2 separate regions of the Homo sapiens genome follow, and region 2 is linked to region 1. The links come from fine-mapping of genetic effects on gene expression. A gene starts in region 1. The other region holds a variant in brackets. All regions are shown on one strand. Distances are between the middles of the regions.

What was found.
Region 2: its variant is fine-mapped to the expression of ARRB2 in whole blood (INTERVAL, PIP above 0.99).

Annotation. Positions count from the first base shown.
Region 1 is chr17:4,708,111-4,713,343 of GRCh38, forward strand. ARRB2 (arrestin beta 2) reads left to right here and starts at 2,522. Exons shown (of 15, transcript NM_004313.4): 1 at 2,522-2,634. The coding sequence starts at 2,612. RefSeq lists an enhancer at 2,140-2,309 and a silencer at 2,239-2,768.
Region 2 is chr17:4,669,869-4,674,868 of GRCh38, forward strand. PELP1 (proline, glutamate and leucine rich protein 1) reads right to left here. Exons shown (of 17, transcript NM_014389.3): 12 at 4,941-5,000; 13 at 4,642-4,801; 14 at 3,751-3,806; 15 at 3,382-3,588; 16 at 1,823-3,277; 17 at 1-1,663. The coding sequence ends at 1,571. Among named protein-coding and RNA genes, the nearest start is that of ALOX15, 31 kb to the left of the region's middle. RefSeq lists an enhancer at 159-328. The variant A/G (reference allele first, on the strand shown) is at 2,577.

The sequences.
Region 1 (5,233 bases):
GTAGTGGACACCTGTAATCCCAGCTACCCGGGAGACTGAGGCAGAACAGCTGGAACCCAGGAGATGGAAGTTGCAGTGAGCCGACACAACACCAGTGTCCAGAATTTGTAGGGGGTCTCACTGACTTTAAGAATGAAGCCATGGACCCTCACAGCAAGTGTTACAGTTCTTAAAGGCAGCATATCCGGAGTTTGTTCCTTCTGACGTTCGGATGTGTTCAGAGTTTCTTCCTTCTGGTGGGTTCGTGGTCTCGCTAGCTCAAGAGTGAAGCTGCAGGCCTTTGCGGTGTTACCCCCCTTAAGGCCGTGTCTCCGAAGTTATTCATTCTTCTTAGTGGGTTCGTGGTTTCACTGGCTTCAGGAGTGAACCTGCAGACCTTCCCAGCGAGTACTACAGCTCATAAAGGCAGTGTAGACCCAAAAAAGGAGCAGCAGCAAGATTTAACCGCAAAAAACAAAAGAACAAAAGGTCTACCTAACAGAAGAGTACCCCAGTGCATTGCAATTGCCGGTTCAGGCAGCCTGCTTTTATTCTCTAATCGGCCCCACCCACATCCTGCTGATTGGTTCATTTTACAGAGAGCCGATTGGTCCATTTTACAGAGAGCTGATTGGTCTGTTTTGGCAGGGTGCTGATTGGTGCATTTACAATCCGTGAGCTAGACACAAAAGTTCTCCACGTCCCCACTAGATTAGCTAGATACAGAGTGTAGACACAAAGGTTCTCCAAGTCCCCACCAGAGTAGCTAGATACAGAGTGTGGATTGGTGCATTCACAAACCCTGAGCTAGACACAGGGTGCTGATTGGTGTGTTTACAAACCTTGAGCTAGATACAGAGTGCCGATTGGTGTATTTACAATCCCTTAGCTAGACATAAAGGTTCTCCAAGTCCCCACCAGACTCAGGAGCCCATTTGGCTTCACCCAGTGGATCCCGCTTGGGGGCCGCAGGTGGAGCTGCCTGCCAGTCCGCATGTGCTTGCACTCCTCAGCCCTTGGGTGGTCGATGGGACTGGGTGCCTTGGAGCAGGGGGCGGTGCTCGTCGGAGAGGCTCGGGCCGCACAGGAGCCCACGGAGGGGGAGGGGAGGCTCAGGCATGGCGGGCTGCAGGTCCCGAGCCCTGCCCCGAGGGAAGGCAGCTAAGGCCCAGCGAAAAATTGAGCACAGCAGCTGCTGGCCCAGGTGCTAAGCCCCTCACTGCCCGGGGCTGGCCGGCCACTCCGAGTGCGGAGCCGCCGAGCCCACGCCCACCCGGAACTCGCGCTGGCCCGCAAGCACCGCGCGCAGCCCGGGTTCCCGCCCGCGCCTCTCCCTCCACACCTCCCCGCAAGCTGAGGGAACCGGCTCCGGCCTTGGACAGCCCAGAAAGGAACTCCCACAGTGCAGTGGCGGGCTGAAGGGCTCCTCAAGCGCGGCCAGAGTGGGTTCCAAGGCCGAGGAGGCGCCGAGAGTGAGTGAGAGCTGCCAGCACGCTGTCACCTCTCACCACTGCACTCCAGCCTCGGCGACAGAGTGAGACTCTGTCTCAAAAAAAAAAAAAAAAACAAGAAAAAGAAAAAAAACTTCTGCGCATCCTTCAGAAAGACTGTCCTCATCTGTTCCCCGCTCTGGACAGCCTGCACTCCCTCCACCCCCGCCCGGGCCAATTGCTGTTAGCGGCTGTGTCTTCTGACTCAGACCTCTGTAATAGCATTCCTGGGTAATACCTGTGTATGTGTCTCCTCAACTATTCTAGGAAGGCAGGGGCCATGGTAATTCGTATGTGTCCCCATCGATTGGCATAGTGAATAGCATAACATAGGCACGGATGGATGGGTCCATAGATGGACCGATGGATGGGAGCGGGTGAGTGAGTGGATGTTAGCTGGGATGGGTGGGTGAAGGAGATGGATAGTCAGAGACATTGGAAAAGGGAACCCTGCGAAGATCAAATGCAAACACCAGGAGGAGCTGACACGCTGCAGTGAAGAAGCGGGAGGGCTGGCCACAGAAGGCGGCACGCTCCGAGTGGAGCAGGTGAGCGGCGCGCACTGAAGCAAGCATCACGCAATTGAACCGCTCACCCACGTGTTCCCCCCCACCATCCTCCTTCCCAGACGGCGCTTCAGCTCATTCCACCGCCCCCAGCAGCCCGGTCGCCCCCACCGCCACTGAGAAAGCAAACAAAGGGGAGGAGACCCCTGCAGGTTCTGGATGCCGAAGGCCAATCGAAAGACTTAGATCCCCTGGAAGGCGGGCGCCTTGGTTTAGGGGGGTCCAATCGGTTTCAAGGGGTTGCAGCGGGGCGGGGAGATGGGCGGGAGGAGTGGGAGCTGGCCCCGCGCGCGGGGGAGGGCTACCAGGCTGGGAAGGAGCGCGAAGGGCTGGGGGCGGAGCCAATGGCCCCGCGTGTCTGCTAGGAGAGGGCGGGCAGCGCCGCGGCGCGCGCGATCCGGCTGACGCATCTGGCCCCGGTTCCCCAAGACCAGAGCGGGGCCGGGAGGGAGGGGGAAGAGGCGAGAGCGCGGAGGGCGCGCGTGCGCATTGGCGCGGGGAGGAGCAGGGATCTTGGCAGCGGGCGAGGAGGCTGCGAGCGAGCCGCGAACCGAGCGGGCGGCGGGCGCGCGCACCATGGGGGAGAAACCCGGGACCAGGTAAGGGAGGTGGGGCCACGCGGCGGGGCATGGGCGGCGGCTCGGGGCGGGGGCTGGGACGGTCCCAGACGAGGGCGCAGCGGAGAGGATCTGGGGGCCGGACGCCTGGGTCCCTAGGGACAGCCATCCGGGGCCGCACGCGCAGGTCCTCGAGGATAATGAGGGTGGGGGGGAAATGCCCGGGCCCCTGCAGAAAGCGAGGCCTGAGGGGGATCAGAAAAACCGGTGTCGGGGTTCTCGCAGGGATGTGGGGCCAGACTACTGGGCTCTCCCGTGCAGGCTGCGATGCAGGGATGGAGGAAGGAGGAGCAGGTGGCTGGCCCCGAGGGGTCGTGTACGGGGAGGCTGGATGCCGGGACGGGGGGGATCCACTCCAGACTCGCGCCAAGCCAATGGAAAGCCTCCTATCCAATATCCCCCAGGTAGTCGCGCTGCCCACACCTGTCCCGAGGGCCGGGTGGCTCCTCACCCAAACTTCTACCTTCCCTTGGGTTGCCAGGAGCAACAGCTTCATCTTGGGGGAGCCGAGTGCGTGGCGACCCTCCCTGAAACTAGATCGTATCCCTCTCTCTGGGGGTGGGGGAGGCAGTATTCACCCTGGGCGCGCGTCCACTCCCCGGATGTTTTCTGTGCAATCGAGGCTCTTTCCTTCCACTGATACCCCGAGTTCTCTTTTTTGGTCTCTAGCAAAATCCACTTCCTGTTGTGACTCAACACCCCCAAGGGGCAAGGGGTGGATGCCTGAGTCGCAGGGGAGCGGGAGCAAAAGACGAAAAGGTTGGGGCTGTAGGCCTCAACTCAGAGGGTATCAGGAATAGGGAATTGGTCCTGAGCTCTGGCTTGCTCTGCAAAACATCATATCAACCCCACTTCCAACCTATAGAGTATGAGAACCCGGGTTTCTGAGCATCAAGTAGACGAGCATCAGAAAGAGATCATCAGAGAGATGATCCGTCTCCTGGATCAGGGTTTAAACATCCCAGAGAAAGGGGAAGTTGCTGACTTGTGGGAGGCCCCTGATTTCCGTCATGTGGTTCAGGGAGTGGGACGGATGGACCAAAGGAGACTGCTAACTTGGCACAATTTCCCTCACCCCCATGAAATTCTGGGCCACAGGAAATGGAGCGAATAGCAGGAAGTGTGAAAGGACATCTGCTTCAGCTACCCCTGCTCCCACTGGGCACCTCCCTGGTCATCCCCACACTCTGCCTCCTTGGCCAGCCTAGTATATGCACGCTGCTCCTCCCCAGCCTGGCAGGAGGTGGCTGGGTTAGGATCCAAAGGGCAAGTGCCTTGCAGCTGCTCCAGGGCAATTGCCCCAGAACCACACTCCAGTTGGCCCACTGATTGTGGCTGTCACAGCCCTGTGCCAGGGCTCCTAATGGGAGGACACCCTGGGACAAAGAGGAAAACCAGAAGCAAAGGGGAGGGAGAGCCTGGATGATGCCACGGCACTCAGCTCCCAAGTTGGGATGAAAGATAGGGTGTTTATTCTAGCGGCTACCATATCGATGTGTATTCTCTTTTATTGGTTAGGAATACCTGGGGCCCTCCATACCCTTTGCCTTACAACCTTTGGACAGCTTGGCTTTCTGGGAAGAAGGGGCAAGTGAAGTTGTAGCAGAAACTGGGCCTATGGTAGAAACCATGTAGGGCCAAAGGCCAGGGTCATTGCTCTCCTATATGCTCCAGCTGTCAGAGCTGGAGACCAGATGGAAAGATGGTTAGGTCTTACCCAGACACTGTGGTAACCTGCCCATTGGGGTCCTCTGGGAATGGGGTGGTAGACTTGGAAGAGGGATGGGCTAGTTGGCAGGATTTCACGTTTCTGCTATCTATCTGAGGATCCTTTCCAGGGATCACTGCTGAGGCAGAGTGGATTGGAAGGAGTAAGGTGGTGCTTCAAAGAACAGGCCCACAATTGGCCAGATCACTGGGGTTGCCAAACACTTCCTTACCCTCCCAGCAATGGGTGGAGTCCAGGCTTAAATTGTTTCAGCAACTGGAAAGCAAATAACCTTCAATTCAACAAACTATTTATGCCAACTGCAGAGACAGATAGTGTAATATTGATCGAGAGGATGGACTCGGAGCCAGACTGCCTTGGTTTCTATTAATTCCCACCATTTACTCCCTCTGTGACCTTGAAACACTTGACCTCTCTCTGCCTCAGTTTCCTCACCTGTAAAACAGAGATATTAGGAGCTCCATCACTGGGTGGTTTTATTTAATTTAATTAATTTATTTATTTATTTATTTTTTGAGACAAAGTCTTGCTCTGTCACCCAGGCTGGAGTGCAGTGGCTCAATCTCAGCTCACTGCAACCTAAGGCCGGGCACGGTGGCTCACGCCTGTAATCCCAGCACTTTGGGAGGCTGAGGCGGGTGGATCACCTGAGGTCAGAAGTTGGAGATCAGCCTGGCTAACATGGGGAAACCTCGTCTCTACTAAAAAAATACAAAATACAGGCCAGACACAGTGACTCAAGCCTGTAATCCCAGCCTTCTGGGAGGCTGAGGCGGGCGGATCACTAGAGGTCAGGAGTTTGAGATCAGCCTGGCCAACATGGGGAAACCCCATCTATACTAAAAATATAAA
Region 2 (5,000 bases), 38 kb before region 1:
AACATTCTTATCTTAGAAGATAATTCATGTTAAAGAATCTGGGATGGGAAGGGCCACGGTGTCTACAGCTTACTTTCACGTGGTCCCATGAAAAAAGAAATGTGTATAACTACAGATGTATAGATTAGACAGATATATGGGTGTAATATAGATACATGTCTACATGTAGATACGCAGTTTATAGGGATAAGAGTTAACATGACTAAATGTTAATTGGCAAATCTAGGCAAAGGTTATCTATTATACTGTTCTCACTTTTCTGTTTATTTCGAAAACAAGTTGAGGGGTAACTTTTTAAAATCCTACTGAAGTTTCCAAAAATTAGCTCAAATGCCACCTCCTCAAAGGGCTCTTCAGGATACATGTTGGGAGAAATGACTCCCTCTTCTGCATTGCGAAGGCACTTTACTTACGTTCATGATTCAACTGACTGAGCAAAAAAAACCACGGGGCCCCTAGTTCAAGCCCACCAATCTTGGTACCCTCTCACAGACACATCTCTCGGTTCATCCTCACACGTCCATCCCAGCAAGGCCTAGAATAGGATTAGTGCTTAAAGAAAAGACACTGGGACAGTCAGGTGCGGTGTCTCATGCTTGTGATCCCAGCACTTTGGGAGTCCAAGGCAGGTGGACCATGAGCTCAGGAGTTCAAGACCAGCCTGGCCAACATGGTGAAACCCCACCTCTACTAAAAATACAAAAATTAGCCAGGCAGTGGCAGGCGCCTGTAATCCCAGCTACTCAGGAGGCTGAGGCAGAGAATTGCTTGAACCTGGGAGGCAGAGGTTGCAGTGAGCTGAGACCATGCCACTGCACTCCAGCCTGGGCGACAGAGCAGGAGTCCATCTCAAAAAAAAAAAGAAAAGAAAAGACACTGGGTGGGAAATATCCACACCTCAAGAGTGAGCAGGAAGGCCTGGGGTGAGCTTATCAAACTCCTGCCAGGGAGCTGTGAGGGGAACTGTCATTAGGAGGACTAGCCCCAAAACAGAGGTCATTCCCAACGTACCCACTACGGACACCCTTTCATCTTGGGGTAAGGTCCAAATTTCCCAGAATTCAATGACTAAACTGCTCCACACCTTTTCCTAATTTCCTAAACTTCCATAGACTGAGCAATCACTCAGCCTGCCCTTTCAGACCAAGGGGCTGAGCACGCATGCGTGTGGGCATGTGGGTGTTGACACAGGTCCACTCACTAGGATGCATTCTCCACACATTTCCCACCCCGAATACAAACACGAAAGCAGGGCTGTGTCTCTATAACTCCTCATTCTTAACCCTACACACAATTCTGCACGTTTAGCATCCAGCCAGAATCCTACAATTCTGACACCATCGTGCTGAGTGATGGGACAGTCCATTACACCAATGTCAGTTGTTCCTCTCTGGATCGTCAAAAAGAGGACAGCTATGGAGACATCTGGGGAATACTATGGACACCCTGAAAAGCCCAGCAGACACTTGAGCTTCTGGCTGGGGACCCAGGTGTGGCAAAAGGCAGAAGCAGCAGTCGCTATCTAAGGACATAACTTTATTGGAAACAAAGAGTGGGGTGCAGAAGATGGCTAGGAGTCAGGCTCTGTGGGAGGTGGTGGCTTCTCATCATCAGGGGGACAATCGATGAAGTCGGCCAGCATGGCAGCTGTGTCATCCTGCTCCTTTTAGGCACAAAGATACAAGATTCAGAATAGTCACACACACATACACAGAAGAATGGTTCAGGCTGGGCAAACCTCTCCTAAGAGAAGCAGCTGCCACCCCTTCTCCCGCCAGCCCCACCTTCTCGCCCAAGGAACCTTCCCTGCCTGGCCTCTCACCTTTTCCTGGAGAGCTTCGGCCTCTGTCTCTGTCTCCATCTCTTCTTCTGCAGGTGTCTCTGGTGGGGGCTGCACCTTGTCACTCCCATCCTCAGTCTCCTCTTCCAACAGGGTTGGGGGAGCAGAGGGCTCTTCTTCAACAAGCTCCTGGGGAGGGGGCCCTGCCGCAGGGCTTTCCCCTTCCCTCTCCACCTCTCCCTGGGAGGGGAGCGCTTCAGGGGCCAGGGTGGGAGCTGTGTCAGCCCCACGCTCCTCCTCCGTCCCTGGCTCCTCCACTTCCAAAAGCAGCCCGGGTTCAGGTTCGGGTTCTGGCTGCACCTTTGGGGGAGACTCAGGGGGAGGCAGAGCTGGAGGCAGGGTTGGGGGTGGAGGTGCACCTTCTTCTACCTCCCCTCCTGCTGTGCCAAACTCCAGGTCTTCCACCTCTTCCAGTTCTTCTTCCTCCTCCTCATCCTCCTCTTCTTCTTCTTCCTCTAACTCACCTTCTTCTTCCTCAAATTCTTCCTCAAACTCTTCTTCCTCCTCTTCTTCCTCTTCAAAATATTCCTCTTCATCCTCTTCCTCTTCCTCAAAGTCTTCCTCCTCTTCCTCTTCTTCCTCTTCTTCTTCTTCCTCTTCTTCCTCTTCCTCCTCCTCTTCATCACTGCTGTTGATATTAATAACTGTCAAATCCTCTTCCAGGGCTGGGGGTCCTCCCCCACCAGGAGTCCCTTCAGGGACCAACTGGGGTGGAGGGAGCGTCACAGGACCAGGA[A/G]CAGGCGGCGGCGGAGGTGGGGGTGGCGGGAGAGGCCCTGGGGCTGCAGGAAGTTCTTCAGGCTCCTCCTTCGCTGGCACAGGAGGGGAGGCTGTTGGTGGCCCAGTGGGGGCTATAGGGGGTGGTGTGGCACCTGAGGGTGGTGGGGGTGGCAGGGGGGGAAGCCCCTCGGGCACGATCACCACGCTGTCATCAGAGTCACTTTCCAAGGAGATCTCCACATCAGATGCCTCCTCCTTGTCATAGTGGACAAAGGCTGGTCTGGGCACTCTCCCCCCAAAAGTTTCATCTGGGGGTATAGTAGGTGGGGGAGTCCCACTAGGGGCAAGGATGGGGTCCTCATTTGAGCCTGCCCGGTGGTTCTCAGGGCCAGGAAGAAGCCGGGGAGGGACAGACACTAGGCCTGGGACAGAAAGGCCTAGGTGGTTGGCTGTGGTGGGAGGTCCAGGGCGTGCCGAGGGCACAGGGCCTGCTGAGGGCATGGGGCCTGCTGAAGGCATGGGGCCTGCTGAGGGCATGGAGCCCACTGAGGGCATGGGGCCCGGAGGATGGAACGGTGGGGCCCTGAAGGGCGATGGGGCCTCAGGAGGGGGAACTGGAGCAGGTGTGGGGCAGGTGGGGCCCATGGGCTGCAGGGGAGGAACCCGGGGGTGGGTCAGAGCAGCACAGGTCACCAGTGCTTCTGAGCAGAAAGAGGAGACCTGAGGAAAGAAGAAAGGGCAAGTGTGAGCACCAGAAATACTGGGAGTCTCTTGGAAACAAGAGACTCCAGGAACCAAAGAGGGGCTTGGCCCATCACAGTTACCTCAAGGCTATCTTCTCGCTGGCCGAGGGAGAAGGCTTGCAGGGCACAGGCAAGAGGAGGTGGGCAGCGAGGAGACGGGGCCAGCAGCAGCGCCAGCAGCAGGCAGTAGAGTTCACGGCGGCAGCGGGAGCTCGTGTACGGGGAGCTGCCTAGGACCTCACCCTGCTGTACACCCATGACCAGGGGGAGGACCAGGTCATGCAGTCTCTGAAAAGGACAGAGCACACCTGGAAACATCCCCAAGACCACCCAACCCTTCTCCAGAGCCTACTCCCAGGTCGGAATGGACCCACCTCTGGGCCACACCCCCCAATGTGTACAGAGCAGGGGCCCCTTCCCCTATCTCCACGGAGACGAGGCTCCACTAACCCTGTGAGTCTCCTCCTTGATGAGAGGCCCACACATGAGGATGGTCCGGCTGAGGCCTGGGGAAGAAGAATGGTGTGTAAAGGGTAGGCTCCCAACAGACTGACGGCAAGGGCTTCTGAAGCATACAGCCCAAAATGGGCATCAACTCTGCCACTGCCTATCTTGGCCAAGTCATTTAACTTCTCAACTAGAAAATGGGGATCATAAAAGTACCTCTACTGTATAGGGCCACTGACGGTATTTAATTGAGACAATGTAAGTAAAAAATTATAAATTTTATAATTTTGCATTTATATATTTGGGAACAATCGGTTCTCCCCTTCCCATGGGATGGGGTGGCAGGCAGTGAAATATATGGGACCCAGAGGAAAGGCATCCATTAACTGCACAGTATCCGACTAGCAACCTGTGGACAGGTCAGTGGTTACGGTGAGAGCAGGGAGCTCCCCCAGGCAGCCTGCCCTTGGAAGAATGTCAGCTTCACAGGGAGGAGCCTTCCCCGCATGCTGGAACTCTGCCTGATAGAAAGTGGATACACCAAGGACGTGCTGAACGCCGGAGGAAGCGAAGGCCTTGGAGGGGCTGTGTCGGCTACCAGAGCTCCCGGTCTAACCGCAGGACCCGAGGCCGCCTGCAGCCCTGGCAACAGGGCGGCTGCTTGGGTGCCTCCTCCTGGCCTCTCTGCGGGCTTCCGCCTGGCTCTGCATTTCACAGGCACCTTCCCCTTCACCTGCTGTTTGGGGGATCACTTATCGCAGTGGACGAAGGCTGGTCTAGGCACTCTCCCCACAAAAGTTTCACCTAAGGGTATAGTAGGTAGGGGAGTCCCACTAGGGGAAAGGATGGGGTCCCGTTTGAGCCCCAGTGGTCCAGGGCACAGGCCTCACCCACCTCTGAGTGCAGCCGCACACACGTCGCTGTTGGCATTGCTATCCCCTTTCCGGTGGCTTGGCGGGGCCATAGCTTCCCCCACATCCAGCTTTAGCTTCTTGGGGGCGCTAGGCTTCCCAGTCTGCAAACTCCCATCAGGGCTCCCCCGCGGGCTACGCAGCTGGAGGCAGAGAAAACATAAATCACATCCACAGGCAAACAACAAGGCAAGACAGCCACAGCAGACAGTGTTTCCTGAGCAGGCACACTTGGTCAAAGGGCACAGGATGAGTCCTAAGGCGGAGCTGAGGCCTCCTCACCTTAAGGGCATCAGCTGGCGGGGAGATGTCGCTGAGCAGGTGGGTGAGCAGGGCCTCTCC